Linked DNA regions of Homo sapiens: regions 2, 3 and 4 are each linked to region 1. The links come from fine-mapping of genetic effects on plasma protein levels. A gene starts in region 1. Each other region holds a variant in brackets. All regions are shown on one strand. Distances are from middle to middle.

Evidence for each region. PIP is the chance, under the fine-mapping model, that this variant and not a neighbour inherited with it causes the effect. The UK Biobank Pharma Proteomics Project read protein levels with antibody pairs (Olink). The fine-mapping took linkage between variants from a reference panel, not from the people measured, so its PIPs are less certain.
Region 2: its variant is fine-mapped to the plasma level of the ESM1 protein (UK Biobank, PIP above 0.99).
Region 3: its variant is fine-mapped to the plasma level of the ESM1 protein (UK Biobank, PIP above 0.99).
Region 4: its variant is fine-mapped to the plasma level of the ESM1 protein (UK Biobank, PIP above 0.99).

What each region holds. Positions count from the first base shown.
Region 1 is chr5:54,982,502-54,990,608 of GRCh38, reverse strand. It overlaps ESM1 (endothelial cell specific molecule 1), which reads left to right and starts at 5,016. Exons shown (of 3, transcript NM_007036.5): 1 at 5,016-5,392. The coding sequence starts at 5,092.
Region 2 is chr5:55,201,715-55,209,821 of GRCh38, reverse strand. No RefSeq gene overlaps it. Among named protein-coding and RNA genes, the nearest start is that of MCIDAS, 22 kb to the left of the region's middle. The variant T/C (reference allele first, on the strand shown) is at 3,793.
Region 3 is chr5:54,898,452-54,906,558 of GRCh38, reverse strand. No RefSeq gene overlaps it. Among named protein-coding and RNA genes, the nearest start is that of ESM1, 83 kb to the left of the region's middle. RefSeq lists a silencer at 6,730-6,887. The variant A/G (reference allele first, on the strand shown) is at 3,612.
Region 4 is chr5:55,021,626-55,029,732 of GRCh38, reverse strand. It overlaps GZMK (granzyme K), which reads right to left and starts at 5,477. Exons shown (of 5, transcript NM_002104.3): 1 at 5,347-5,477; 2 at 4,926-5,073. The coding sequence starts at 5,410. LOC102467081 (a long non-coding RNA gene) reads left to right here and starts at 5,564. Exons shown (of 3, transcript NR_104662.1): 1 at 5,564-5,804; 2 at 7,021-7,105. The variant G/C (reference allele first, on the strand shown) is at 3,085.

The DNA of each region.
Region 1 (8,107 bases):
CTGGTTGGTGCCTTACCCATAGCTGATTATGAAACTGGGATGCCAACCTACGTCTTCTGGTCCTGAGTTCAGAGCTACTTTTGCTACTCACATTGCTTCTCATGTCAGGGTGGCACATGGTGCTTCTGGATGTGGGTTCATATTTGCAGCTAGAGGGATGCTGTGTGAAACAGGAATCTCTTGCTGATGGAGTCCGAGATTCAGAACCTGATTTGAGAAGGAGCTAGCTGTTAGAAAGAAAAGCTTGCCTTGATGCCCCACATTAGAAACTGCCAGAACTGGGGGCAAAGAGGAGAAGAAGGCACCTCAGTGAGTAAGAGCTCTTCATGTTTCCAAGCCAGACTTCCTGGCTCTAAAAAAGTTCCTAGCAGCGTGAACCCAAAGTTGAAGTTTCTAGATTTGAACAGGGTTAAAAAACAACCTGACTCTGTGGCTGCTTCCTCAGAGGCTCCATTGGAGTAAAAATCTGGATATAGTGCCAAGTTCTCTGAGAGGTGCCCAGACATTCTGGGTTTGTAGCAGACACTGCGGGTGTCCTGTCCTTATCTTCTTGCAGTCACTCACACACCCTCACACTCAGGGCTCCTGCAGAGCTCTGTGTGATGGCACCCCAGCTGCCTACGAGGTTGACCTGCTCATCAAGACAAATCAGAGAGCCCCCATATGGGCAAGAAGCCTAATTAAAGCAGATGCATTTCACTTTGCTCTTCTAAGCAGGTGTAGTTTTTGAAAATTGCCTGTAAATCATATATTGGTACATTCAATTCCACTTTGCTATTAAAATTGTCTTTATTAAAAATAGAAACTTAAAGAATTAGAGAGATTTCTTTTGGGAAAATATTTGCTCCAAGACATAAGATCACATTTAAAGAATGAAGCCAATCTTCAGAAATCAGACGCTTGATAATAATAGTCACGATGGTTTCATATCTGTTGCCCTGTTTGGCCCTCTTATTATTGAGGTACTGAGGAGAAAGGAGAGGTCTAAGGTATGTGGCATGTGACTTGCCTAAGATCACATATCTTGGCAGTGGTAAAGCTGTTTCTAGGCAAACTGTACTCAGGGCAGGAGGCTCTGGGAAGATTCCTCAGGCCCTGGGCTTTGACAGCTGACCTGTGACTGCCGTGAATCCCAGCCAGTTTGGCAGAAGTATTTCACCAAGTTCTATTGGCTATGAGGGGCTCCCATGAACTTTCCAGGGTGGATGTGATATTGCCAAGCCCAAGGTCAACAGGACAAATTTGGTTAGCTGTGAAGGAACTGCCGCAATGGGACTACAGTCTTTGCTCAGGCTCCATCCAATCCTCGATGTCTCTTGGATTGGATGTGCTGTTTCTTGACACCTCTACCTCATTCCCACAAGTAAACACATTCTGCAGCTTAACCTAGCCTGCCCTAGAATCTGGGCCTCACTTTGCTTCTCCTGGTGGAAAGAGAAAGAAAGGGAACACATTGATGCCCGTTTAACTTACTATCATCTGAAGATGATTCTGGGAAACAGTTGGTTCCTTTTATGTGTTTATTAAGTATTAAGCTCCTGCTGTGGGCTAGACCTTGCAGTAGGCACATGCAAAATTGCTATCAGCTAGTGTCAAAGCAGGAAGACTTTCAGATGGTATCAAAAACCACAACCAAAACTAACCTAAAAACCAAATCACCTAAAATCTGCATGTAAATGTCTCCACTTGCTCCTCCAAACTTTATGCCCTCAAGTCTGCCTTTGTAATTCAATTTAAACCAGACTTCTCTGGTAGAGCTGGTTTGTTAGGAAGGCACAGTAAGTACGGTATAATTCGCTTTACCATAAACCACCTTCTGAGAGTCTGGGATCTGCCCAGAGCCTTTCCACTGGACTACTTTTACCTATCCAGAAAAAAATCCTTGTTATTTGGTTAGAAGCAATCATAATGTACAAAATAAACACAAAATATTAATGCACATTACCAAAGCTTATTTTCCTAACACAATACCAGCTTTAAGAAAAAAATCAAAGTGGCATTTTAAGTATACAGGGTATACTGGGTTAAATAGATATTTGGTTTTATCATTTCTCTGCCCCCATTGCAAAACACCATATGCTGCAACATTTGGATCCACAGATGGTATGGTTTGACCCACCTTAGTTTGAACTTACATTTTAGGAGTTGTGAAAATCTTGTGCAATTCCTCTTGCCCTTTCTCACTCTGACTTGACAACTGATATACAGGCAGAGCAAGATGAGAGATGTTCCAGTCCCCAGCACAAAGCAAGTGAAATGGGTGGACCTCATGCACTCACTATCAACAGCTCTGCCATCATCTTATTGCTTTTTAATGCAGCTTAGAGTTGGCTCCTTGGTTGCTCGTGCTCCCATTTCCTAACCCTTTGTGGTCATTGCTAACTTTCCTAATGGAATTCATTGATCTGGGCTCAAGGCTCTGGGGAAGACAGAAATCACTAGATAAAAATCTTACAGGGATTGTGTTGGGACAAATGGTTTTTGTTGGGTCTTGGAGGGATTGAAGGTTCCCCTAAAATGAGTTGTTAGGCACTGTGTATTGAGATAGTTCCACCACTGGTGAACTCTATTGGGCATATTTTCTGCACTTACCTGTGCATTGTAGTTTGGTTTACTATTTGGATTTGGTACTCTCAACTTACATTTGTTTAGTTGTCATTTACTGAAGGTATTATCAATTTGGTTTCCCTTTATCTTCCATAGTGGAAGAGTTTCATGTCTTTATGTGCTATTCAGGAGGACGAAATCCACTCCATTCCTTCTGTATTACATCTAGTATAGCTTACCATGTCACCCACCTTGGGCACCTGTTTGGCACCTGTATGTATTTGATTTTACAATCCTTAATCCAGTCTCCAGAGCTTGTTGGTCTCAGGGCTGGAGTCCTGGCTTCACCATTTGCTAACTGTGTGATGATGGACAAGTTACTTACCCTCTCTAGGCCTCAGTTTTCTCATATCTAAGATGGGGATAAGAATAGCACCTAGCTCTTGAGGTTGTTTTGAAAGTTAAATGTGGTAATCTACATAAACTGCTTAGCATGGCATCTGGCACACAGTCAGATCTCTGTAAAGGTTAGATATTATTATTAACCACTATTCCAGTTAACTACTCCTCAGAAAGTGGTGTTCAGTAACAAGGGACATTTTCTAGGGTCAGCCTAAATTGCGACCTAGGCCATTGGAACTATTGGCCATGAAAGCACAATTATGTATTGTAATAGGCAATAGAATATGTGGCTCTGACATTAGACTAACATCCATCCCTTCAATATAGGGACCTTAGGCAAATTAACCTCTTTCTTACTCAGTTTCTTCTTTTAAAAAATAAGCATGATAATAGCAGCCACTTCATAATATTGTGATGAGGTGCAAATGAGTTAATGCATGTAAAGTGTTTAAGCTATTAACTCAACAAATATTACCCATTACTGAAAACATCAGAGTGTGCCACCTGCTAAGTAAGTGCTTCTGGGGAGATAGAGTATTTCAAATTGGATTGTCATGAAAAATTTGGAAAATTTGAAAGCTAAAACTCTTGCTTTCATTTCCTACTGCCTCAATTCTCTGTATTCTGAATTTACTCCCTGTGTCCCCCTAAAATTGCATTTGCAAAAGCCGATCTTCAAGTTACATCCAATGCCCGCTCTGCCTCATCTTCTATGGGAAACAAGAATTTTAGAGGTCAGGTAGCCTAACACCATCAATTCTCAAAAGAGGAAGCTGAGGCCAAGAGAAGTCCTGTGAATTTCTTACAGCTCATTTGTGACAGACCAAGAATTACCCACTTTACTGGGTTGTTATTTACTAAGTGACAGTGAGTCTATATCTCTTTTGACAAGTGAGGTGGGGGCATGGAATTCGGCATGTGGTTGGTGTAAGAACTCCCCTCTCTCCTCTTTAACCTTACTTAATAAGACCCTGGCACAGTTGATATTTTAAGAGGGCTACTCTGTTTTCCCAGAGGGACCTAGGCACGGTAACCCTCTTAGCATGCAGACCTTGTTTCCTGAGGGGTAATGTTTCCCTTCCCTGTGACTTGTTTCTTGGGGGCTGTGTTCTGATTTTCCTGCTGAGCCACTTGTTGCCTTGGGCTGGCTGCCGCGCTTGGCAGTTTTTAGTGAGGGCTCTGATAGATGCCAGGAGGTGAGGGGAAGGGCTCTGGGTGGACTCCGTCATTGGACAAGCAGACTTAGTGATGGATGAGCCTTCCCCTGAGGAAGTTTTGGATCAGAAGTCCAACTGATAAGTTTTTCCAGAATTGAGTAACCCAGAAGCAGTGCCGAAAGGATCTTACCTCTCTTGTGGCTTTTTGTATTGATTTTAAAAGAAATTCTCAGAGGCAGTTCCACATTGTACTGGAAGCACAGCTATATCCACAATAGGCTTAGATATATGTAACATGAATTGCTTTAGAAATAACATTTGAGGAGAGGGGTGAGAGGAAGGAAGAGAGGGTCTTAAAAAATAGCCCTATCAAAATATTTTCTTTCTTCTAAGTATTGAAAAGACACAATATAACCCTTTCTTCTTTCAAATGATCTCATAGCTATTTGTTGAGGGGAAATACCAAATGTTTATTATTTTTTTTGAAGAAGCTTCTTCGGTCCTGATGATTCATGTTGATATCATTTTCCTCCTGACTACAGAGGCTCTGAGACAAAGCTACACCTCAAGTGATATGCCAGGGTCAGAACAATTCCCGTCCTGAAGGAGGGTGTGCAACCTTCTTTATCCCTCCTTCACAGACGTCCTTGAGCCCTTGAGACGGATGTGAGTGAGTTTTTCAGTCCTCATGCAAAACAACCATCTAAACATAACAGATGACATCAGCTTGGGCTTTTCAATTCCTGGATGGCAGCAGCGTGTTAATCCAGCCTTCATCCTGGATTTCATAAACCAAAACAAGAGAGCCTGGCAGGAGGACAGCGCTGCTGCTGGGTTGAGGAAATTGATGACGGGAAAGCATGCGGGCAACCCAGTGTATAAAACTCATAAACGTGTAGGCAGAGGCTCAGCTACCAGTTTGGACGGCTGCTTCCCACCAGCAAAGACCACGACTGGAGAGCCGAGCCGGAGGCAGCTGGGAAACATGAAGAGCGTCTTGCTGCTGACCACGCTCCTCGTGCCTGCACACCTGGTGGCCGCCTGGAGCAATAATTATGCGGTGGACTGCCCTCAACACTGTGACAGCAGTGAGTGCAAAAGCAGCCCGCGCTGCAAGAGGACAGTGCTCGACGACTGTGGCTGCTGCCGAGTGTGCGCTGCAGGGCGGGGAGAAACTTGCTACCGCACAGTCTCAGGCATGGATGGCATGAAGTGTGGCCCGGGGCTGAGGTGTCAGCCTTCTAATGGGGAGGATCCTTTTGGTGAAGAGTTTGGTATCTGCAAAGGTAAAGAGTGACCCCTTACCTCTCCCCTCCCGGGGCATGCTGAGAGCTTTTAGCCAGCTTGGGAGGTGAGGTGGCTTTGCTCCTCAAGAGTAAGAGGGAAAAGGCAGGTGGATTCTTGACAAGGCACCACACAGGTATTGTCATGGGTAGAGACTGAAGGATAGCTCCAAGTAGCAACTGAAACCAGTGTGCAGGAAGGCACAGAAAGAAGTGTGGCATTTTACTCGTTGCCTTAGGAGATCGCAAAAAGAAAGCTGCAATGGAAGATTGTGTTGGCTCCTTTTCTGGAAAACTTTAGAAACTTGACAGGTAATCTGTTAAGGATGGCTTAGGTGCTCTCTCCTCTGCGAGGCAGCGATTACAAAGGTCTGCACTAGATAACCTCTTGGAATGGTTTCTAGCCCCCAGATTTAGTGATTCTTTGATCTTGAAAGGGTCCACAGGATGGAGGGCCACTCTCAAGATCAAATATTTCTGATAAACACAAATGCACTTTATGGAATAGAGTGAGCTTAAGTCATCTAACAAAATAACTCACTCTTCAAAGAGGGTCCCCTGAAGCATAAAACAAACCTCATCTGACTTTATAAAGGTTTTGGTCATCTGGAAAAATAGCAGATGGTGTTAAGACAAGGAAAAATAACAATAGAGAAAAATAAAAACTGGAAGTCTGTAAAGAATGAGGTTGACCACTTGTACACTTAAAGAAAAACTTCGTCGGTTGAAATTTTAGCTAAATAATGTAGTTAAGCATTTGTAGAATTTATTTTAAACATAGTAACTAGTTTAAAATATTTAACATTTTAAAAATGTTTAGAATAAAAAGAATGATGATTTAAAAATACTCTACGTATAGATATCTCATGATCTTATTATGAAGAGCTATTATTAAGAAGCAACACATGCTATAACCCCATCCATCAGTTGTGTAATACCAGGAAGCTTTCAAAATTATAAAAAGGACTGAGAAATTTCTAAATAATTATTATGTTTTATGTATTTAATACATTTTTTATGAATAATATTTATCCAGTATTGTGCTAATCTCATTAATTCTCCTACTTCTTAGACATATAATGTATAAATTAATCATCTTTTAATTTGCAAGACATACAAAATTAAAAAAACAAATTCTTAAAGTATTAGGAGAGTTTTATTTTTTGCTTAGTTTATTTTTGTTTATATACAATAAGAAATAGAATATTGAGAAAATATTTTGTTTGGTGAACACATATGCATGTTTCTTTCAACTGAATAGGATCTGTATATTTTGTAAATTATGGGGCTTATTGACCAAGAAAACAGTACTTCACATAAGGAAATTAGGGAGGAAGTGGTTAACACAATCATACTTATGATATAGCATGTATATGCAGTGGATTGCTTTTTCTCTTGGCATAATATGCCTTTGTACATGTGATTGTAAATGTACATTACATATGGGCAAAGAAACAAGCTGTGTGGCATCTGGAGTCTTTAGCACTGTAGTATTCTACTGAATGATCAAGATACTAAAAAGATCTTTAAGATTGCTTCTTTTGGCTTTCTTCAGGTTGCTGATGAATCTAGTTTTAAGCATTTTTCTCTCTGCTGGAAATAGGAGACTTTGTGAGCCTTAGCAACTCGAGATAGAGATAATACATTTGGCAATCATCTCCCTTCTTCAGCTTTTTAAAAGAACATCCACGTGAAAACTGTAAACTTCAGCTGCGTATCCAAATGTCTTCTAAATATTCAGATGTCTGTGAACATCTTGCCCAGATTAACAATCAGCAGCCAACACATATTTAATGAACACTTACTATCTGCCCAGCACTGTTCAGTACATCAGGGGATACACTAGAAGTATCTCTGGGAATTTGGCTAAAGTTTTAGTTTTCAATATCGCTGCAGGCACAGTCAAATCCTAATCCTGTGTGCTTTTCTGGAACAGGCCTTTGCAGGATCCCTTTTTAAGATCTCTTCTTCCCAGCAAAGAGAACAGTGTTCAAAACCAGGTTCCTCTGTGATCTGAACCATATTGAAAAGAGCACTCATAGATCTCTTTAAAAAAAGATAGCTCATTGATGATCTACTTGGTCAGTTAGTGGAGTATTAGACTGCTAGAGACTCAGATGGCTCACAATTTGTTCTTTACCCACCTGTGATTGTACATTTACAAGGTATTTTCACAACAAGAGAATATTCTATATCTATTCTGCTGGCTTTTAAAGGTTGGTTAGTCTACTGAGATGCTGTTTATCCTAAAAACAGCATTTTAAATAATTTTATGCATTTTAAATAAACGACTTTGTCCTCTTTATTTCAATGTAGGATGTTTTGGCATAAGTGTAAGCACTGGAGGTCTAAAAGCTTCTAGTTCTTGGTAGGTGTACAAACCCTCAGGGTGTATAAGCCCTGAGCTTTCTTGCTCATTTAGCATCTTGCATGTTAGCCTTGCAGAGGATTTTACTAGGGAGCCCTCTTAACTACTGAGGGAGTCAGGCAAGTTGTATGACATGCCGTTTCGACAAATAAGGAACTTGATAAGGGTTGGAGCAGATGGAAGATTGATTGCTTCATGGTGAGCTAGGATGATAGCTCTCTCCCTGGTTAGTTTGAAGCCCTTTCCTATACACTTAAAATAGTAAATTATCTGTGAATACAGTAGATTCAAAGATAGCATCACATTTTAAAAACTCTTTGAGGAGCTGATGCATATATGTCTGTTCAATT
Region 2 (8,107 bases), 220 kb before region 1:
TGCCAAACTATTTTTTAAAGCAGCTGCACCATTTTACATTCTCACCAGCAGTGTATGAGGGCTTCAATTTCTCCAGATCCTTAACAACACTTGTTATTGTCTGTCTTTTTTATTGCAGCCATGCTAGTGAGTGTGAAGTGGTATCTTATTGTGGTTTTCATTTCCATTTCCCTAATGGCTAATGATTTTGAATATTTTTTCATGTGCTTATTGGTCATTTGTATATCTTACTTGGAGAAATGTCTTTTCAAATCCTTTGCCCATATAGAAATTAGTTTGTCTTTTCATTGTTGAATTTTTTTTGTTCTTTAAAATTTTTTTAAATTTCTTTTATTTCTTTTTTCCTTTTTCTCTTGTTTTTAGTTTTTTTCTTTTTTCTTTTGTCTTTTTTTCATTGTTGAATTAAGTGTTCTTTCTGCCTTTCTGTGGTTTGTTCTTCACTTTCTTGAAGGTATCATTTACAGCAAAATGTTTTCATATTGATGTAGTCCAATTTATTTATTTTGCTAATTGTGCCTTTCATCTCATAACTAAGAAATTATTGCCTCACTCAAAGTCATAAATATTTATTCTTATGCTTTCATTTAAGAATGTTATAGTTTTATTAGTTAATTTAGGTCTATGATACTTTTTTTTTTTTTGAGACAGAGTCTCACTCTGTCGCCCAGGCTGGAGTGCAGTGGCATAATCTCGGCTCACTGCAACCTCTTTCTCCCAGGTTCAAGTGATTCTCCTGCCTCAGCCTCCCAAGTAGCTGGGATTATAGGCGCCTGCCACCATGCCCAGCTAATTTTTGTATTTTTAGTAGAGACGGGGTTTCACCATGTTGGCAAGGCTGGTCTCAAACTCTTGACCTCAAGTGATCCACCCGCCTTGGCCTCCCAAAGTGCTGGGATTACAGGCATGAGCTACTGCACCCGGCCTATGATACACTTTGAATTAATTTTTGTTTATAGTATGGGATGTCTGACTTTATCTTTTTGCATTGGATGGTTTGTTGGAGACTATTCTTTCCGCATATTGTCTTGACACCCATTTTGAAAATCAATTGAACATAAATGTAAGAGTTTATTTTTGAGCTCTCAATTCTACTCAATTGATCTGTGTATCCATCCCTAAAGTAGTACTATGTTGTCTTGATTATTGCAGATTTATAGTAAAATTTGAAATTAGGAAGTGTGAATTCTCCAACTTTGTTCTTTTTTTCAAGATTGATTCAGCAATTTTGGGTCCCTCATAGTGCCACATACATTTTAGGATTAACATATCCTTTTCTGCAAAAAAAAGTCACCTGTGGTTTTGGTAGGAGTTGCATTGACTCTGTAGATCAATGTAGGCAATATTGCCTTCTTAACAATACTAAGTCCTCTAATACATGAATTTGGTATATCTTTCTCTTTATTTAGATTTTCTTTAATTTCTTTCAATAATGTTTTGTAGTTTTCAGTGTAGAAGTCTTACACCTCTTTTGTTAAATTTATATCTAGGCATTTTATTTTTCTTGATGCTATTGTAAGTGGAATGGTTTTCTTAGTTTCATTTTCAGATTGTTCATTGTTAATGCATAGAAATACAACTGATTTTTGTATATTGATTTTGTATCCTTCAACCTTGTTAAATTAGTACATTAATTCTTGTAGTCTTTTAAATGAATTCCTTAGGATTTTTTGTATACAAAATAATTTTACTTCTTCCTTTCCAATCTAAATAGCTGCTGCTGCTCCTTCTTCTCTTTCTCCTTTCTTCTTCTTCTTCCTCTTCCTCCTTCTTCTTTTTCTTTTCCTTGTTTTCCTTCTCCTCCTCTTGCCCACCTCCTCTTCCTTCTTTTTCTTTCTTCTCTTTGCCTTATTGCCCATGTGCATACCTACAGTGCAATGTTGAGTAGCAATGGGGTGAGCAGGCATCCTTGTCTTTTTTCTCATCTTGGGGGGAAACATTCAGCCTTTCACCATCAAGTATGATGTTTGCTCTGGGTTTTTCATGGATACCCTTTATCAGGTTAAGAAAGTTTCCTTTTTTTCCTGGTTTATTAAGTGTTTTTAAACATGAAAGCGTGTTGGATTTTGCCAACTTTTTTGCATCTATTGAGATAATCGTGTTGCTTTTCTCCTTTATGCTATCATTATATTACATTGATTTTTGGATCCAGGAGATTCTTGATGCAAGATAAACCAATTAGTAATTCCCTTTCCTGGGAAAACTCTGACTTGGAACTGAGGTTTAGTGACTTGTAGTCATTTTAATGTCAAAATTCTGGGAGATGATCCAAAACTTGAAAACATGATGAAAACTTTGCAAGTAAGCATCATTCAGGGTGGGGGCTATGGAGGAGCATTCCAGGTGGTGAGTGACCATCAGGGAAGTGAGCCCTGAACCTTGGAAGAGCTGCGTGTGTATAAGAGAAGCAACTAAAACTCTCCATGCAAAGGAACAGTCATTTTGTCAGGTGGGGAAGGGTATAGGGCAAAAGGACTCCAACAACTAAGGAGCATACAGCCCCTCTTCTTTTTCCTAGTAAAAAGAGACGGGAGATCTTTAGAAGAGAAAGAGAAACAGCTCTCTCTGTATAGAGGGGTCTCGCAGCGGAAAGGACCCGGCTGGCAGTGGATGCACTGGATTTTATTCGAAGATCACGGACAGTAAAGGAGGAAATTATACAGAAAAGTTGGAGATCCTGTTGCCGAAACGCCATTGGGCGGTCAGAGGCTGAGGTCAGTCCAGAAGCCTTTGGATAACGCCACGGGGTAGCCCCCGCCAGAAACCCTCAGTTGCCTCAGGACTACTTCCAGACCCACACGAGGGCTAAGTCCTCCGTGAAAGGAAGCTATTTCAAACATGGCCAACATGCCCTGCAAGCCGTGGGTGCTGGGGATTCTGCATGTTCTCCCCAGCAAGCCTGTCCCCCAAGTCTTTCAAGGCTGGCAGCCATGCTAATCGTTTTTAAATGGCTGAAGGGGGCCCAGTATTTGGTTTGATTTGGTTCTGAAATGGAGGCCGAGAACCTTAAAGTGAAATGACAGAGTTGGAGTCCGCTGCTCTACTCACCATTTGGATGAATGTTGTACGTTGGTATCCCGGACAAGGGCCCAAGATGAAGGGGCTACGTTGTCTGGGATGTATACCTTGGGGTTTGTCATCTCGCGCCAGGAAAATTTAGGACACGGACACACACAGGGAGTTTAGGAGTAGAGGTTTCATAGACAGAAGAGAAGAGAATGAGAAACAGCTCTCTCTATAGAGAGAGGGGTCTCTGAGCGGAAAGAACCCCCATATAATGTTATTAACTATATTGTTTCTATAGCTTTTTTCCAAATTCCTTTTTGCTTGGAGATATTTTGTGATTTGAAAAGTAGACTTTACGTTTGAGTCATTTTAGGTTCACAGTAAAATTGAGTGGAAGGTATAAAGTTTTCTCATATATTCCCTGACCCCACACATGTATAGCCTCCCCCATTAACAACATTCCTCACCAGAGTGGTACATTTATTACAGTTGATGAACCTATTGACACATCATTATTACCTGAAGTCCTTAGTTTACATTAGAGTTTACTCTTGGTGGTGAACATTTGATTGGTTTGGACAAACGTATTAGGACATGTACCCACCATTATAGTATCATACAGAATATTTTCACTGTCCCAAAAATCTTCTGTGCTCCACTTATCCAGCCTTCTTTCTCGCCTAACTGCTAGTAATCACTGATCTTTCTACTATCTCCATAATTGTGCCCTTTCCAGAATGTCAGGTAGTTGAAATCATGCAGTGTATATAGCCTTTTCAGACCTTCTTC[T/C]TCTTCTTCTTCCTCTTCCTCTTCCTCTTCCTCTTCCTCTTCTTCTTCTTCTTCTTCTTCTTCTTCTTCTTCTTCTTCTTCTTCTTCTTCTTCTTCTTCTCCTTCTCCTTCTCCTTCTCCTTCTTCTTTCTTCTTTCTTCTTTTCTTCTTTCTTCTTCTTCACTTTTGAGACGAAGTCTTGCTCTTGTTCCCCAGGCTGGAGGGCAATGGCGCGATCTCGACTCACTGGAACCTCCGCCTCCCAGGTTCAAGTGATTCTTCTGTCTCAGCCTCCCAAGTACCTGGGATTACAGGCGCCTGCCACCATCCCCGGCTAATTTGTATTTTTAGGAGAGACGGAGTTTCACCATGTTGGCCAGGATGGTCTCAATCTCTTGACCTCATGATCTGTCTGCCTCGGCCTCCCAAAGTGCTGGGATTATAGGCGTGAGCCACCACAGCTGGCATATTTAGTAATATGCATTTATGTTTCCTCCATGTCTTTTCATGACTTGATAGCTCATTTCCTTAGTGCTGAATAATATCCCATTATCCCATTAAGATATACCACAGTTTATCGATTCACCAAATGAAGGATATCTTGGTTGCTTCCAAGTGTGGCAATTTTGATTTCGAATAAAGCTGATATAAACATCTGTGTGCATGTTTTTGTGTGGACATAAGTGTTCAATTCTTTTGAATAAAACCAAGAAATGTGATTGCTGGATTGTATGATAAGAGTATATTCAGTTTCGTAAGAAAGTGCCAAGCTGTCTTCCACAATGACTCTACAATTTTGCATTCATACGAGCAATGGATGAGTGTTCCTGTTGTTCCTGTTGCTCCACATCCTCTCCAGCATTTGGTATTGTCAGTGTTCTGGATTTTAGCCAATCTACTAGGTGTGTAGTTGTATCACATTATTGTTTCAATTTGTGTTTCCCTGATGACATATGAGGTGGAGCATCTTTTTATATGCATATTTGCCATCTGTGTTTTTTTTTTTGCTGAGATGTCTGTTAAAGTCTTCTGCTAATTTTTAAATTAGGGTTTCTTATTGTTCAGTTTTAAGAGTTCTACCTATATTTTGGATAACAATTCTTTATCCGATATGTCCTTTGTAAACATTTTCTCCAAATCTGTGACTTGTATTTTTATTCTGTAGACAGTGTCTTTAACAGAGCAGAAATTTTAATTTTAATTTTAATTTTAATTTTAATTTTTTTTTTTGAGACAGAGTCTCACTCTGTTGCCCAGGCTGGAATGCAACGGCACGGTCTCGGCTCACTGCAACCTCTGCCTCCCAGGTTCAAGTGATTCTCCTGCCTCAGCCTCCCAAATAGCTGGGATTACAGTTGCTTACCTAATTTTTGTATTTTTAGTAGAGACAGGGCTTCACCATTTTGGCCAGGCTGGTCTCAAACTCCTGACTTCAGTGATCCATCTGCCTCAGCCTCCCAAAATGTTGGGATTACAGGCGTGAGCCACTGCACCTGGCAGAAATTTTAATTTTAATGAAGTTTAACCTACCAATTCTTTCTTTCATGGACCATCCCTTTGGTATTGTATCTAAGACATCATTGCCAAACTCAATATCATTTAGATTTTCTCCCATGCTATCTTCCAGGAGTTTTATAGTTTTGCATTTTACTTTAGAAGTATGATCCATTTTGAATTGATTTTGTAAAGTATGTACAGTTTGTGACTAGATTACTTTTTTTGCATAGATGTCTAGTTGTGCCAGCACCATTGGTTGAAAAGACTGTCTTTTCTCCATTGTGTTGCCTTTGCTCCTTTGTCAAAGATCAGTTGACTATATTTCTGTGGATCTATTTTTAGGTTCTCTATTCTGTTCCATTGATCTATTCATCTATTTTTTTAATCAATACCTCCAATGTCTTTTTTTTTTTTTTTTTTTTTTTTGAGATGAAGCCTCACTCTATCACCCAGGCTGGAGTGCAGGGGCGTGATCTTGGCTCACTGCAACCTCCACCTCCTGGGTTCAAGCAATTCTCCCACCTCAGCCTCTCCAGTAGCTGGGATTACAGGCATGCTTGCCAGCACGCCCGGTTAACTTTTGCATTTTTGGTAGAGATGGGGTTTCACCATGTTGCCCAGGCTGGTCTTGAACTCCTGGGCTCAGGCAATCCTCCAGCCTTGGCCTCCCAGAGTGTTAGGATTACCGGCATGAGCCACTGCACCCAGCCCACGTTGTGTTGATTACTGTAATATTATAGTAAGTCTTGAATATGGGTAGTGTTGGTCCTCCAGCTTTATCTTCTTCAATATTGTGTTGCCTGTTGTGCATCTTTTGTATCCTTATAAACTTTATAATTAGTATGTTGATATCTACAAAATAGCTGTTGACATTTTGATTGAAATTGCATTGAATCTATAGATTAATAGTTGAATCTTCTCAGTACTTGGGAAGAACTGACATCTTGGCAATATTGAGTCTTCCTAACCTTAAACATAGGATATCTCTCTGTTTATTTAGTTCTTTATTGATTTCTTTCATCCAAGTATTGTAGTCTTCCTCTTGAAGATCTTGTATGTATTTTGGGTGCTAAAGTAACGATATTGTGTTATTAATTTCAAATTCCACTTGTTTATTGCATCTTGTTCATTGCTAGTATATTAGAAAGCAATTAACTTTTGAATATTAACCTTGTATCCTGCAGCCTTGCTATAATTGTTTATTGGTTGCAAGAGGGTTTTTTTTGTCAATTCTTTCAGATTTTCTACACAGATAATCTTATCACCTGCAAACAAAGACAATTTTGTTTCCTCTTCCCTAATTTGTTCAACTTTTAAAGATTCCACATATAAGTGAGATCATGCAGTATTTGTCTTTCTGTGTTTGGCTTATTTCTTAGCATAATGTCCTCCAGATTTATCCATGTTGTCACAAATGGCAGGATGTTCTTTTTTACAGCTGAATAATATTCCACTGTATATGTGCACCACAATTTCTTTATCCATTCATCTGTCCATGAACACTTATGTAGTTTCCATGCCTTGGGTATTGTGAATAATATTGCAATGAACATGGGAGTGCCGATATCCTCTCAAGCTACTGATTTCTTCTTTTCTTCTTTCTTTCTTTCCCCCTTCCTTCCTCTTTCTTTCTTTCTTTCTTTCTTTCTTTCTTTCTTTCTTTCTTTCTTTCCTTTCTTTCTTTTCTTTCTTTCTTTCTTTCTTTCTTTCTTTCTTTCCTCTTTCTTTCTTTCTTTCTTTCTTTCCTTCCTTCCTTCCTTCCTTCCTTCCTTCCTTCCTTCCTTCCTTCCTTCCTTCTTTCTTTCTTTCTTTCTTTCTTTCTTTCTTTCTTTCTTTCTTTCTTTCTTTCTTTCTTTCTTTCTTTCTTTCTTTCTTTCTTTCTTTCTTGACAAAGTCTAGCTCTCTCATCCAGGCTGGAGTGCAGTGGCGCAGTCTTGGCTCACTTCAACCTCCGCCTCCCAGGTTCCAGCAATTCTCCGGCCTCAGCTTCCCGAGTAGCTGGGATTACAGGCGCCTGCCACCATGCCCAGCTAATTTTTGTATTTTTAGTATAGTTGGGGTTTCACTGTGTTGGCCAGGCTGGTCTTGAACTCCTGACCTTGTGATCCACCTGCCCCCACCCGCCCTCGGCCTCTCAAAGTGCTGCGATTACAAGTGTGAGCCTCCACACCTGGCCCCAGCTACTGATTTCTTTTCCTTTAGATTATATATCCAGAAAAGGGGTTTCTGAATCACATGTAGTTCTATTTTTAATTTTTTTTTTTTTTTGAGACGGAGTCTCGCTCTGTCACCAGGGCTGGAGCGCAGTGGCGCAATCTCGGCTCACTGCAACCTCCGTCTCCCGGGTTCACGCCATTCTCCTGCCTCAGCCTCCCAAGTAGCTGGGACTACAGGCGCCCACCACCATGCCCGGCTAATTTTTTGTATTTTTAGTAGAGACGGGGTTTCACTGTGTTAGCCAGGATGGTCTCGATCTCCTGACCTCCTGATCCGCCTGCCTCGGCCTCCCAAAGTGCTGGGATTACAGGCGTGAGCTGCCGCACCTGGCCTATTTTTAATTTTTTGAGGACCTCTCCACACTGTTTTCCATAATTCCTGTACCAATTTACATTGCCACCAGCAGTGTACAAGGGTTCCCTTTTCTCCACATCCTCACCAACATTTGTTATCTTTTCTCTTTTTGATAATATCTCACTGTGGTTTTGATTTGCATTTCCCTGGTGATTAGTGATGTTGAACATCTTTTCCTGTGCTTGTTGGACAGGAAAAGGAGAAATGTCCTTTTAGATCCCTGGCCCACTTTAAAATCAGATTATTTGTGTTTTTGTTATTGAGTTGT
Region 3 (8,107 bases), 84 kb after region 1:
CCAAGTAAAGCAGTTTTCCCCATGGAACCCAAACAGCTTAGGTTTCCAGTTTTAAATCAGGAGATTTCTGTTATGCAATTTATTCCCACTATTTTTCTCATTTCACATTGGAATGTTGATCTTAAGCAACTGTCAATCCTACAAAAATACACAGGGCATCTTTTAGCACAGTATCACTTTTTATTTCATTTGGCTGGTAAAGACAGCTTTGTACAAGGGAATTTAGAACTTGTCAACCGAATTTTGGTTAATGTCACTTGAGTTTAAAGAGACTAGATTCCTGTTTCCCTTCATTTTCCTAGAAGTGAGATCTAAATTCAGTTTTATTTCATAGAGCTTGCTGGACACAGGGCTGGCTCCAAAGACAGCACTTAAAGTAGCAGACAGTTATTTTCTCAAAGCCTAATGGCGCCCTCAAGCGGCACATTCCATTGCAAGATTTTCAATCTCATGGCAGTCTTTTCAGAAGTTTTGTTTCTTAGAAGCAGGATAAATTTTTTTTTGAAACATTAAAGCAATCAGTTAGGTTTATTATTTTTAAAGATGACAATGCAAATTCCTCCTTATTAGTCTTCAATCCCTGAAGGTTCAAGATGTTTCTTGCCTCCTGCTGCCATGAGAAGGAAACTTAGAGGCATGCGGTGATGCTACATGGCACGGCCGGTGGATGATTTCTCAGAACGTTCTCATGGGAAGGGTGGGTGCACTCTTAGAATCAGTCATTCCTGCTGAGTTGATGTTTGAACAAGGGAGGGGGCTTGAGAAACTAGGTAAAAAAATGCTTTGAAACTAAGCATGTTCTGGCCTTCGTTTTCCTACACATACAGTTTTAAGAAGGCGCAGTGATTTATACTTCACAAGGTAGTAAATAGTGCTGAATTCTTTGGTTTCCTCTGAAGCATCAGTGATCAAGTTACTGGTGGGATGAATGAACCACTTTGGTGATTGTTTTTCCAGGGTGACTTTGAACACAAAATCTTTGAAGTGTTCTAGTGGATGGATTCAGAGCTTCCCACAGGCTGGCAAACCATTCATGAGACCTCCTCACATTCCCCAGTTCAGTAGGAGTGAGGTGGCCTATGTGAGAGGTAGGAGAGCCACAGGCTGTGGGTAGTCCAACATCTGTTGCATGGGTGTTTTATTAGTCACTTGGTCAAAGAATCCTCCCTGAGAGGCTGGGAGGATCTGCATCTCCCTCAGTCAACTAGGCTGAGTGGCCTGATTAAAAGTCAGCACACACCTGGCTTGGTACATGCAGACACCATCTGAAGTCTGGGAGGGCAAATTGCTTCTGACAATGTCAGTCACGGGAGGGACCTGGAGTGACTCTCACGCTTACACCTTCTCACTAACTTTGGCATTTTATACAGATCCCACAGAAGAGTCAAAGCAATTATCTAAGAGCTTAAAAACTACAGAAATGAGAAAGAAACCTTTCAAATTATCATTGCTTTGATAATGGAGCATCAATTTCAATGCAATGTCATGGAGGTTTATGCACAAGTCAGGAGGTGCACTGGTTTAGTAAATCAGAAGGATTTTGTTGTTGCTAAGCTCATTAACATTCCCGGGAGAGCAATGAAGATACCACTTTGCTGGCTATGGCCTTACAGGTGACCACATTGAATGCAGATGAAAAGAAGCCAAAAGAGTCAACAAAGAGAAAACACAAATTCAGGTGTGTTTAGTCGGTGTGAAAGATAAAGAGTTCCCTGATTCTCATGTTCCCTCTTCAGGGAAGGGAACTGTGTACCTTCTCCTTTTTTTTTATTTTTTATTTTTTGTTCACATAAGATTAATTGCATAAAGTGAAAATCCACTGGAAGATTGGAGGAGTTTCATCATGAAGGGTGAAGGCTCGTGCGCCATACTTTCATAAATGTGTGTGCCTGGGAGGAGGGGACAGAAAGGACAGGACATCCCTGCTAGCTCTTCCATGGAAGGCTGAGCAAATAACCAGGGAAAGGATAGAGAACTGGAGTCACTCTTTGGGATTTAGGCTCATGATTCATACTGGCCACTGGAGGGTGCCCCTCTGCAGTCATCACTGCTCAGAAGCCCAGACTCAAATTCCAATGGTACAGATGCACCTTTTTAATGTGTTGCAGAGTTTCTCAACTTCAGTACTATTGATATTTTGGCCCAGATAATCTTCATGATAAGGGGGCTGTCCTGTGCACTGTAGGATGTTTAGCAGCCTATCTGACCCCTAACCACTAGATGCCAGTAACACCTGACCACCCAGTGATGACTATGAAAAATATCTCCAGATAGTGCCAAATGTCCCTGGAAGGCAAAACTGACCTTGATTGACATCAGTCAGTCCATTGTTCTATGGCTCAAACGCCCTTTCCCAAAAGATTCTTGTTTGGCCTGGAGTCAATGGACACAGCATTAGAAAGAAACAAAAATTGCTTTGGCCAAGTCTCTATTCATTTTCCAGTTAAACCCCAGCTACAGGATTCCCAGCCTAGGTGGCTTTGATCAAGTCTATCCAATATGATATAGGTGTCCATCCCACCTTCTCTCTCTGCAGCCATTCCATCCCCTCTTTTCAGAGCTCCTCCTCCAAATCCTCCAAGAGTGCAGATTACCAGGAAGTGAGGCATTTTGTAAACTGCTTTACACTAAGGCGTGTTTGTCACCTGGACTACTGCAGGGGATCATCATGCTGAGGGATGTGCACATTTAAAAGGAGGGAATGGCCTGACAGAGGGTATTGTCTAAACTTGCTAAATACTAATCTCTAGCAGCAGGATGCCAGGCACCATGTTATCTGTAAAATGGAGGACATTAATAGTGTTTCCCTCATAAAGCAACTGTGTGGAGCGAGTAAAGCACTTACAGCAGTGCCTGAAAAAAGTAAACACTCCTGAAATGCTAATCGTCCTGTTTTTGTTGCTGTCATTACCATTAGTATTTTTCTTATCTATCCAAGAGACATGTTTGGAAAGAGGTATGATAGCTTTGAGCTTGACCAACTTCCCATAAAGTTATCCTTGTCTTTAGTCTCTAACCTCTAATGCTGCATCTGGATACTTGAAACAAAACCACCATTAAGCAGAACTTAATGCTAAAAAATGAATCCACCTTGAAATCCTCCCCCCTTGAATATACCTTTGAATATTCTACCCTGAGTCCAAAAATCATTGAATAAATGAATGAATGAATGAGCTATAGGTAAAATGGAAACAAATATTTGTGAAGAACCTAAACTATGCAAGGTGCCATGGGGCCATCTAGAATATTAGACATAATTTTATGACTAATAAAGATACAGGCACTCAAATCACCAGGTCACCCCGCAGGGTGTAATGAAAGTTGAGAAGAGTATAAGGTGTACGGGAGTGACAAGGCTGGAGAGGTGACTTTCCCACACAGCAGTTTGGTGGAAAGGCACTTGGGAGTTGAGGGCAGGGGAGAGGAGTATTCTAAGCCTTTCTTTTGGGCCCTTGGGTTTTATTGCATTACCAGGAAGCAGCTGCCCCTCAATTACAGAGCCAGAGATGCAGTGCAGTGAAGTGTCAGTTTCACATGTGCCATCTGTAGAATCTGAAACCTCAAACTCATACAGAGACCACAGAGCACTTTCTGAGCCTTCCAGTCATGCC[A/G]CCTGCATTCATGTTCTTTGTGGTTTCTGAGAAATGCTGCACAGTGAGCAAATGAACTAAATCACAAGTTGTGCTGAGCCAGAGAAATAGGAGACTTCTTGGAAGTACACAGCTGTTGTCTAATTTTCCCAGTCTCTTCCAATTCAAGCAGAGAAGTGTGTTGAAAATCTGTGTGTGTGCATGTGTACGCGTGCCAGAGAGAGGGGGAGAGAAAGAGAGAATGCCAATTGCTTTATTTTGGAAGGAAGATGAGGGCTACCCAGAAGTGAGAAACATTAGTGTTTATTCCTATTTTAACAGCAGACATTCAATGTTCTACGGCCTGTAGGTTAATTTACTTTAAAATAATGTGTTTAAGATAGATAGCAGATTTTAGGTACTTATCACAAACAAAAAAGAAAAAGAAAGGTAACAAAGATGATGGGCATGTTACCTCATTTGATTGTAGGAATCACTTCACTATGCATACGTGTATCAAGATAAGTATATCAAAACACCATGTTATACACTTTAATATATATAATAAAGCAACAATAACAAATAACGTAATTTGTATAAACTATATAATTTTTGTGTACAAGTTAAATCCATCATTTTAGAGGTGATTAATAGTCTTTGAAATCATGAGGTTATTAATTAGCTATGCAGAATCCTAAACAGAAACTTAAACCTCAAAAGCGAATTTCTTGGCACTTACTGAAATAAAGCCTGAGAGCATTAGTAAGTTAGCAGAAGGGATGTCAGAAATAATTTTAAGTGCTGAAATTCATGGAAGCTTAGTACAGGACTCACTGTCCTTTCACGAACATTCAGTGGCATATGTGAATGAAGGTTAAGAATCTGGTCAGCCCAGGACTTTAACGACTGCTTTCCAGGTTGAAAATTCCTTGGCTTCTTCTTTCACGGGCTTCATGGAGGATTTTTGTCACCAATTTGACTACAAAGATGAGCATTCACTCACCCTGGAATGTGCCTTTCATGTAAGGGGTGATTGTGCAGCTAAGGCAGAGAGTGGGACCTCTTCTGCTACATGCAGGCTGTGGGACTGAATTGTGACTTTAGGTGGAATTTGCCCCTTTTGTTGTTCTGCACCTGATGGTGAGAGTGTGGTGAAGGGAACGTCTAACTCCACCCACTTAGAACCTCCAGAGGATCATCAGCTTTTGATATTTACCAGAAAAATAGCCTGATGTTTGCTGAATGGCCAAATGGACTTAGGCTAGTTTGCAGCAGTGCAAGCAGCAGCTGCTCGATGGTAACGCAGGACGGGGAGCTGGTGAAGACGTTTTGTTCAAAAGCCTCATTTTGCAATACAGGCTTTCTGAGGAGGAGGGAGGCTGGACTGTGTTCTGTGAAGCAACTGTCTGATACAGTGAGTCACAGTCAGGAGGGTCTCTTGGCTTCTGAGAAAGGTTTAATGATGAGCCATGAGCTGCAACCTCCCTGGACAGAGGATGTGGACACGCCACAGCTGTTTCTGGGCTACTGCTGCATCAGACGCCGTTTACCCAGCAGCTGAGCATGACAGATGCCTTGTAGGTACCGGGCACAGTGCAGGTACCTACAGTACCTTGTATTTACCTTGACTCAGGGTATGGGAGGTAGCATAATGTGGTGGCTAAGGGCTTTGGTTTCAGAGACTTGGCTTTTCGTCCTGACTCACTGATAGGAAAGGAAGAGAAGCAGGAAGGAAATTCACTCCTTATTCCATGGGTTCTTGAGTCAGAACTTATTCTTTCTATTTTGTAAAAATAGAAGCTGTCACCCCATTACTAAATAGGAAGGAGGGATGATGGGGTTACAGGGCTAGAAGAATGAGAGAAACCCTGTGTCATTCAGAATGTCAGCTCCCGCAGTTTTCGCAACTGCTCCTGTTACTGTGTGGCCTACGATGAACATCTGTATGGATTGGACTAATGGACTAATCCTGCATCTAACCTTGGCTGAAGGAAGTACCTCGTATGGCCTTGAGTCTCCAGAGCTGCCTGTCAGAAGAAACAGAAGAAATCCCCACTGGCTGCTGTCAATCCACTGACTTGCTTTAACTTTCTTCCTTCATTGTAAAGTCTTGCTCCCAAATGCTCTGTGAGGACACTCGTTGAAGTGGCTATCATTGATTTATATTTCTGTGTGAGGAATTCCAGCCCCTTTCTTCAGGGTAGGTTTTTACTCTGAGAAATTATGAAGATGGCAGAGGAATAGAAGGGTCCCCATGGGAACAAAAGCAGGACTGGCATTTGGGGGTATTAAGATACACACTTTACTGACTTCTAAATTTTCCTTGAGGTCTCTGAGTTCTGCTGTAAAATAGTTTGGCTGGCTTTCCATTACTCTCCTATGAAAATGGTAAACTGACAACTTCAAATAGAAAAAAATTTCATATTAATTTCTTCATTTCTTCATCAACTACTTATTGAGTACATGCTGTGTCAGCTGCTGGTCCAGACCCTGGGGAGATAACACAGCATCGATGGTCACTTGGATTAGAGCAGCAACAGAGATGGAGAGAAGCAGATTGATTTGAGTCATGTTTAGATGTAGGGCTAACAGGACTTTGGGTATAAGGAAAAGAGATGAATGAGTGTTGATTCGTAAGGTTTGGACTTGAACCATGAGATAGATGGTGGTGCTATTACAGAGATGAAGGGGATGAGAGGAGGACCAGGCTTGCAGAGCAGAAGTCAAGGCTTCCATTTTTGTCACATTAATTTTGAGATGACTATTTGACAACTGGGGGAAAATGGCAAGCAGGCCTATCTTATTCAGTTCAGGCTGTCATAACATAAGGCCCCATGGACTGGGTGGCTTAAATAACAAACATTTTATTTCTCATAGTTCTAGAAGCTGGGAAGTCCAAGATCAAGGTGCCTGCACATCCAGTGTCTGGTGAGGGCATTCTCCTTGGTTTGTAGACAGCTGTCTTCTCATCGTATCCTCACATGGTAGAGAACAGAGAGAGGAAGCTAGCTCTCTGGTCTCTCCCAATAAGGAAACTAATCCCATTAATGTGGGCTCCATTTTCAAGATCGAATTACCTCTCAAGGCCCCCACTCCTAATACCATCACATTGAGGGTTAGGATTTCAGCATTTGAATTTGGGCAGGGAGGTGGGGGAGAAGGCCAGACATTTGGTCCATAACAAGGGCTTTGGATACACAAGTAAGGCTGAAACCCAGGGGGCCCCTCAGAACCAGAAGTATGAATTTGGGAGTCCTTTCCATGTAGTACTTCAAACCATGGGGCGGGAAAAAATTTGTAGATGGAGAAGAAGAGAGCAGGTAGGGCTGAGCTCTGAGTGCAGAGATGGCTTAGAGGACATGGAGCTAGCAGAGGAGACTAAGCAGGTGCAGTCACTGAAGTGGGAGGTTAACACAGAGCCTGTTGCTTTATGGAAGCCAAGAAAGGAAAGGATTTCAAGGAAAGAGCAGTCAGTTTGAATGCTACTGAATGTAGGGCGAGATGAGAACAGAGAGTACCATCAGGTGTGGTGATTGGCGCTTTCTGCTCTCATCTCATCCTACCTTCAGTAGCTCAGCAGGAAACAGAAATTATACTGCCCTGATTGAATGGGTGCAAAGAGAAGGGGACATCATGTGCTTCAAAGAGTTGGATCAGAAGAGTTGGGGGGAAGTTAGGTATGGTGAAGGGACTATAATATCAGGAAAGGGATTTTTAGGATTAGAATATCCTTTTTAGCTGGAAAAATAGAGAGGGGGATATTGAAGATTGCAGGAGAGAAAGAAAAAGAGAGAGAGAGACGCCTTGAAGAAGCAGAAGGGAATGGGATCTAGAGGCAAGTGGAGGTTTGCCCTGAATAAGTAACTCTAGTGCCTGTAACAAGATGCCGGGTGCAGGGATGACGAGGCTGGGTTGAGGTTGGTCAAAAAGAGACTAAACTCCAAAAGAGGTGAGAAAGCGGAGACAGTGAAAGGAAATGACGCTTTCCAAAAGAAGACTTCTTTCTCTGTGCTAAAGGAAAGGATACATGTTGGGCTACGGAAATGGGATGGAATTTGGAGTTAAAACACTTGAGTCCCAGGATTGAGACTCATCTTAAGCTACTGAGTGTAGCTTACCTGCCCAACAGATTTTTCTGAGGGGAAAAAAGGGGCAATTCACCTACTCAAAAGAATCAAGATGTAATTATTTTCTTAGAATATCTCCACAATTTGATCATGAGGGCTTATCAAAATTTCATGAAAACAGACATTGCATGAATACTCTTAGTATCCACTTATTCATTCATTCATTCATTCCACAGATAGTCATTGAAAACCCATTATGGCCCAAGCACTGCTGCAGGCATTGGGGTTGCTCAGTGACCATACCAAGTCTCTGCCACATAGAGTTTACATTAGAGTGGGAAGGAAAACTATAAATAAGGATCTATGTATACCAGATGGTTATCAATGTTGTGGAGAAAAAGCAGCTTATGCAGAATGGAGGAGCTGTTATCTATGGTGACTATGGGAGTCCTCACCAGTTAGAGTACATTT
Region 4 (8,107 bases), 39 kb before region 1:
AACATTAAGGGGCACACTGGTGCATGCTGGGCATGGTGGTGCATGCCTACAGTCCCAGCTGTTTGAGAGGCTGAAGCAGGAGGGATTGCTTGAGTCCTGGAGCTGGAGGCTGAAGTGTCACAGCCTGGGTGACAGAACAAGGCCCCATCTCTTAAAAACAAACAAACAAACAAACAAACAAACAAACAAAAACCACAAAGATCCCCACCCTACACTTGCTCACCCACATGCCTAGACTTCATCTCAGGTCAATGTGGGGAAGTAAGGCCTATTACATGACAGTCAGATATGTCCATATGTCCTGTCCCCTCAATTAGAACAAAGATTTGGACAAGAAAGGAAAACTTTCCTCAAGGTAAGAAAACAGTGCTAATTTAAAATGAAGATACTTTAAGGTTAGTAGCCATTCCATCGGGGAGATTTAGAGGATACGAACTGGTGAGTGAGGTGAAGAAATAGGTTTGTTTTTTGGCTTTCTTTTTTAACGTTTTTTTTTTTGAGAAGGAGTCTTGCTCTGTTTCCCAGGCTGGAGTTCAGTGGCGCCATCTCGGCTCACAGCAACCTCCGCCTCCCAGGATCAAGCGATTCTCCTGCCTCAGCCTCCCGAGAGGCTGGGACTACAGGCTTGTGCCGCCACACCTGGCTAATTTTTGTATTTTTAGTAAAGACGGAATTTCATCATGTTGGCCAGGGTGGTCTCAATCTCCTGACCTCAGGTGATCTACTGGCCTCAGCCTCCCAAAGTGCTGGGATTACAGGCGTGAGTCTCTGTGCCTGGCAAGGTTTGCTTTTTAAATCTCTGGTCATACACAGTTCTAGTACCAGTGTTTCAACAGTGCCACAATTGATCTGATTTACTCTTTGTTGGATAAAATTACATTTACAGCAGTGATAAAGTAGAAATAATTTTTTGGAGATTTTGGCAGAACCGTAGAGCCATTTGTATACTACAGATACATTCCATTACAGTGTCTATCTTTATGAAGTCCACCTCAGATCTTTTAATTGTATTTGTTTGTTTACATGTAACTATTTCTTTGCTACTTGGAAAAGCTACCAAAGTAGATTGCAGTAAAAACACACATACTCATGCATATAGATTAATAAAGATTAATAAAAGTTACAAAGAGCACAGAAACATACAGAAAAAGGAAGACATGATTGTTTCAGATTTGAAAATGGCAAATGCCTGTGGTAGAGTGGGTTTGCTTATGGCAGAGCTGTGACTGCCTGGAATGACCACTTTTTGGTTTCTACCAAAAGAGTTTATTTTTATTTATTTTGGGAATTCCAGCTCTATTTGTTGAAAAGTTTGCCTATTGCAAAATCAGGACCGGGTGGAAATTTCTCATAGGATGTGGACTGGATTTCCTAGGATTGATTTGAATTCAAATTCAACATACCCACTAAACCCAAAACTTTGTAGGAGAAGGATGACATAAAAATCTTCAGGATGAATGCTCTAACAGAAAGGTGGGCACGTGCCTAAATGACTCACACAAAGAAGGCTATGAGGTACAAATGAGAGGTATGGAGGGTGGATTCTCACTAAGGGAGGGATGCTGAAAAAATGTCTGGGTTTCTTTCGTCTTTTACTAATTTACTCGGCTAGTTATTGCCTTTGAAATGTTTTGGTTATTTTTGTCTCCACTGGGACATGTTAAGACCAAAAACAACCCAAGCAGACCATTATTCCTTCTGACCTTTCAATTTCTAGATATCCTTCAACTGTAATCTGTGCTACTCAGGTCAAATTTTCTGCCCACAGGGTACCTGGAATTACTTGAGTTCTGGGATGCCACCTCCTTAGCTAAACTGAAGTCTGAATTCACACAAAGAGGAAGTAATAATGCCAGTGTTTTTCAGTTGCACAGCACAGGATTTCCCCAAATGCAGTCTTCAGACTTGCTTCAGAATCACCTGGAGGTGTTGGTTTAAAATGTGGTTTCCGGAGTCCCACCCTGAGCTTTCCTGGAAGAGATTCATATATGGAGCAGAACTACAGTGCGGCTTATAGTGGGTCTGCTGAAGACATCTGTAAACATTGTCTCCATTGAGCCTAACAATAACCTTTTTCAAGGCTGGTAAAGCTGACGGGCTGTGTATTCCTTACCAGTAAAAGATTGTTCTCTGACTGGTCCAAGGTGACACACCTCATAAATAGGGGAATCAGGACCCAAATTTGGCTTTTGGTGACTCCCAGTCCAGTGCTCTTTCCTCAATCCCTCTTTGAACCCCGTGCCAACCCCCTTCAAGCCTCTTCTTTTCTCTGCCAGCGCGCCTGGACACTCAACAGTGGTTCTGCTTAGACCCGCCCCTTGAGGTCTGGCAGCAAAGGCAGGGTCCCTATGTCTTGGAGATTTCTCTTGCCTAAGAGAGAGGGAGAAGAACTTGGCTGTCAGAGAGGGAGGTCTTCCCAGTCTTATCTCGTCAACATCAGATTAGTTCCTTGGTTATTACCATGGAAGGCACAGATAATTGTATAACAATACTCGATAACATCTATTAAGTTCTTTGTGTTCTGTGCTAAGCATTTTACAAAGCTTCCCTCATTTAAACCGCACAACAGCGTGGTGAGATAGGTATTATGACAATCCCCATTTTATAGATGAAGAAATTGAGGTTCAGGTAAACGAATAAACTTGAGGACCTTTGCCTCCAGGAGGCAAATTCGGGCAGGATTAAAGCTCAGTTGGCTTGAATCTAGAGCCTGAACATTGAACCATTTTGTTCCAGGAGCCTTGAGCATTTGAGATGGAGTGAGGCCATGTGGAAGGGGCTGTGGAAGGTTCCATCTAACAACTTGCTAGGCAGGTTGGGGCAGGAGGAAGTGCTCTGTGAGAGGGGCCTGGGAGAGAATCAGGAGAACAGGGTACAACAGCTGGTGAGAGTTTTGCTTCTGGTAAGTTAAAATGCTGAAAATAAGTTTGTACAGGACATTTTTTATCAATTTCCTTTTATATTTGACATGGCAACTAATAAAGGGGCCAGAATATTGAGGGAGGAGATGTGTGGATGGCTGGTGAGAAGGGAGCACTCCCAGGTTTGGCCCTCTTCAAAATTTTGCTGAGAGAGAGGCTTGGG[G/C]CAAACTATTCCCACAGGATACTGGGGAGTACATTTGTGGGAAGCCACCATTGAGCTATTTTGTAAATATTTTGAATTTCATAAAGCTTAATATTTTTCCAACCACCGATCTGCCTACTTTTTACACCCAAGTGTCCTGTAGAGGAAATTTGATCTACATATTTTGCAGTTCTTTATACCCCAGCCATTTAAAATGATATTTAGCAATAGTTTGTTTTAAGAAAAAAAAAACAAAACACAAAAAACTCCAAGACCTCTCTCCAGTCTTTTGTCAATAATCTCTTTCCCCAATTTGGGAATCCGCTTCTCGTGAGTTAAATCCACTTGACAAAATTTAAAATTCAACTTAGTGATATTATTTAATTTCCTATAACACTTTATGGCTAGTGAAGCACTTTTTCATACACCATGTTTCAGGCCTAGCCAAAGAAAGAAAGAAAGAAAGAAAGATCTTTCAGTGTATTTCTTTCTTTCCATCCAAAGTTTGTTGAACATTTAGAAGTCAAGCTCTGTGTCTGGGGAGGTTATAGACCATTTGAATGTGTATTATGAGCATATTTGAAGATGTGCATATTTTGCATCAAATGAACATTCGCTGACAGTTCCCCACTCTGTCTCTCTGATCTCGAGGGGGCAAATGCCCTGGAGAAGAGAGAAGTGATGGGGATGAGAGTGTGATTTCTATGAGGGCAAGAACCCTGTGTAAATGAAGTAACCATATTAAATTGGAAATCAGTGGCTTGCTATTTAGAGATAGCAGAAGATCTCCCAGTTTGCAGGCTTCAAAACTTCCAATTTGTGATCAAACAGTTCCATTTAAATGGGGTAATCAGACAAAACCCCCAAAGCATAGAAAAGCAAATCAATTCAATTGTTCTGTTTAGATATAGACAATGCCTGGAGAGCAAACCATTACAGCTAAGAGAGATCTTTAAGTGAAAGAAAAGGAGAAGGCTCCATTTCAGCTTATTAGGTAAGAAACATAAGGAAACATATATACAAACAAAAAACAAAACCAAAAACCCAAGCAAACAAACAAAACAACAAATACCAAATTAGTTTTCTACTGGCATTTCCTTTTGTGATGGTTGCAGCATCCCAAGAGGGGTTTTGTGCTTTATTAGCTGAAGTAAGAGAATCCTAGGCTGAAATGGACTTTGGAAGGTTTTACTCTGTCTTCAGAAAAGCTTTCATTCTAAGTATCCTAGAAAATAACTCTCTCATTATCTTTCTCTTTCTAGAAGTCATCAATAACTTGTTTTTTTCCACCTAGGAAAGTTGTAAGTGGTGAGTAGCTACTGTTAGGTAGCTACTGTTAGGAGTGGCAAAGTAGGCTTCTCATGCGTATAATACTAATGATAATAGCTGCAATTTTTTTGTGCTTACTAAATGTGCCAAGCATGCTAAAATACTTAAACAGATACTATTTAATTCTCAAAACCCACAAAGCAGGTATGATATGATTATTACCCCTTTGTAAAATGGGGAAGCTCAGAGCACAGAGCAAGCTCAGGTTGTCTGATTTCCTTTTGAGCAGTGTGATCTAACAAGGTCAAGAGTACTGCTGCTTCAAGTATTACTGTTGCTGTGTTCCCTGCATTATACAGAGGACTTGAATTTGTCTAATGTCTTGCCTGGGAAAAGCAGCTCAGTTCTCTCTGAAAAGGAAAACCCAAGACAGAAAGCGTGGATGTGGAAGAAGGTAAATAAACGCCACCAGTTGGTCAGTAACCACAGAAGCTAACAGTAGATCAAATTCTCATTCAGGAGAGGTAAGCTTCTCTTGTACCTATAATAACTTTCAGAAAAAACACATGTCTGGAAAAGTGTGGAGGACTCACCGATATTGGCAGTGGGCTGCTGTCAGCACCCACTGTGGATCAATCAGAACACCTCCACAAACGTGATGTCCGCCATACTGGATGGAGGCCATAAATGGCCTGGAATGAGGTGACACTTCTTTCCCTCCAATAATTTCCATATTGAAACCTACAAAAGTAGACCAAAAGGTTTCACACAAAAGATCTAAACTACTGTTTCATGTAATTCTTCCAATGACAGTCACTATATTATTTTCAAAGCTTAAAAAACAACAATAACCCTACCTAAAAGCTACAATAATTTTACTGATGAAAAATTTGTATAATACATTACAGTTCAGAAAGATAGGAATGATTGTGAAAATAATTTTCATCTATAATATAACAATATAGTCAGTAGAAATTCATTTAATGTTTACATGTAGATATAGGAGATACTTACACACATGAGTCATATAAGCCCCAACTATTAGGAAAAACAGAGAAAAGGAAGAAAACTTAGTCATTTTAAAGATTTAGATTTAAGAAGCCCAGATGAAATGTGTTGATCCTGTGATGAAGGAAGAAGATTCTGAAGACTGAGTTTTGTTCTTGTAAGTTTTGACTTTCTCACCACAGGTGCTCTAGGGGTAAGATTTTTTTTCACACCTAGGTGTAAACGTTATGTATCAGTTTGGGGACTTTCAGGTCTGTGCTTTTAGCACTTTTTTGTTTTGTTTTGTTTTGAGACGGAGTCTCTCTCTGTCGCCCAGGCTGGAGTGCAGTGGCGCGATCTCGGCTCACTGCAAGCTCTGCCTCCTGGGTTCACGCCATTCTCCTGCCTCAGCCTCCCGAGTAGCTGGGACTACAGGCGCCCACCACCACATCCGGCTAATTGCTTTTAGCACTTTTTTGGGAGAGGTATGTATGCCATAAAGAACTCATATCTGGAGATACCATCTCTAATACCTGTATCAGAGTACTTATGCTATAAAGAAAATTTATACTATATGTGTATATAATATTTATAAATGAAAAATATCCATGCCATAAGAATGTAATGAAGTTGCAGACAGAGTTCAAAGATGTCCATTGCTCTCAAGCAATACTTACTATTTTTCCTGGCACAAAATGGTGCCTATCATATTTCATTCTTCTCTCTTTTTCATTTGGACATAGATTTATGATGAAGAGAGACATGGACCTTGCACAGATTATGGTTACTTCACAATGTGGCTTAGCTAAAGCCTGAGCACCAACCAGAGAAAACCATATGTTTTGCAGCAAACATCCCTACTCATGTCGTTTCTCTAAGTTTGCCCAAATTTGGTTAAATTTTAGTTACATTTTTGTGAGATTTCATAATGTTGTTAAAGGTGAACATTGGCAACTATTTTTGATTCAGAGTCTCTCTTTTACTCATTTTTAATTGAAAATGGCCATGTGTTTTTCCAGGGACTTAATAATAATGTCTTTTAAAAATAAAGGACTGCATTTTGTAATTCTTCCCAGGAACAGATGACAATGCATTGCCAGGCCTTCAATACAAAAGGTATTAGACTCAAGATTCTACAAGATTCTGTTTGTGCCAGACACTGATCAGCAGTGCAAATATAAAATGAATACAAACAGATCACGCATCAGAATGCCAATCACTTCCTAGTAACACTGATCAAAATTTGCATTAAATCAACAGATCTTTCTTTTAAGAGGTATGCATTTTATCTTCCATTCATTTTAGAAAGGAGAATTAAAATCCAGAGCTATTATGCTCGGCAGATTGCAAGAGACTCCTTTCAAATTGTTTTCTAGCACAAAGAGTAGGAATAATAAAAAATAATACTATAATTATGTATTATTCATTATAACTTAATAATATATAAGTAAAATACCTTATTTCCAAAATTCTTTTTATATGATCATTTATGGTTTCATGTCTATGTCTTTGAGGAAAGCAGGACAACTTATGTTACAATGGAAGAAATAAGTTCCAAGAGGCTAAGTAATTTGCCCAAGGCAACACAGCTTATGACCTAGACCAAATCACCTGCCTGACCTCCCTGTATGTTAAGTTGTATGTGAATGAGTACCCTCCCAGAACACAGAATTTTATAAAAAACCTGCTTTCCTTGTACAGGTGTGTGGCAACAGTAAAGCTTTCTACATGTTAAACAGAATGAACAAAACCAACGCAGAGCAGTGACTTCCTGTCAGAGCAGAAGGTGAGATAAGGAGGAGCCAGATTAAGAAAAGCCACAAGCTTAATAAACCAAACTTATTACTCCCACTCAAATGTCCCTGTGAATTTTCAAGTCATCTTTGTCACTGTTGATGTACCTTGGATGCTCTACTGTGTGCCATTGTTCCACATTGGAAGGCAGACAGGATGGCGTCAGTTCCCTGCTACATCCCAGTGATGCTGGGATCGTAAGGAAGATGGTGTGTGACAGGTAGAAGTGATCCAAACTCTAAGGAAGAAATAAATTGTAAAGGACGAAGCTTTGTGTGTGTGTGTGTGTGTGTGTGTGGCGGGGGAAATGGGAATGGTTACAAACATCTCTCAGCTGCTTATTTCTGAGTAGTAAGGATTAATGTCCACATAGCGTTGTACAAATTGCTGAACGTTTTTAGCTGTATTTCCAGGGAAGTGGTTGTCATTAGTCTTGTTTTATGGATAAATAAACTGAAATTCAGGGACTTGCTTGAGATTACCGAGCTAGCAGGTGGCCCTTAAGCTCCTATGTGCTGGCTCCCGGCTCTATGTTCCTTTCAACCTGGCTACATGCCTGCCTCCTTTGAGAAGTCCCTGGGGGTTTAGGGGCTCTGAGACACAAGCTAGCTGTGCAGAAGAGAAAAAGGATTTAGCCATACACACTGCGTGTAATTAGACATGGGTGAGATTTAGTTCAGTTGGGAAGAGTCTCATAACTCTTTCTTGTAGCTGACCTAGAAAATTCTGAGAATCATGTTGGTTAATAGTAATGAGTTATTTGGTTTTGGCTTTAGACCGATTTGCCAGTTAATAGTATCATTTGTTATTATATTCACGATTCTGGATTTGAGAACAGTGGGCTGTGTAACATGATGAGCTCGGCGATCTAATTTATTTCTGGGTGTTGGTTTTTGTTCTGTTGAGTCTGCTGCAGGGAGGGCCATGTTTGCTTTGGATGGCTTTACAGCAACTGTACCGGACTGAGCAAGTGCAAGGCTGTGCTCAGAGGAGG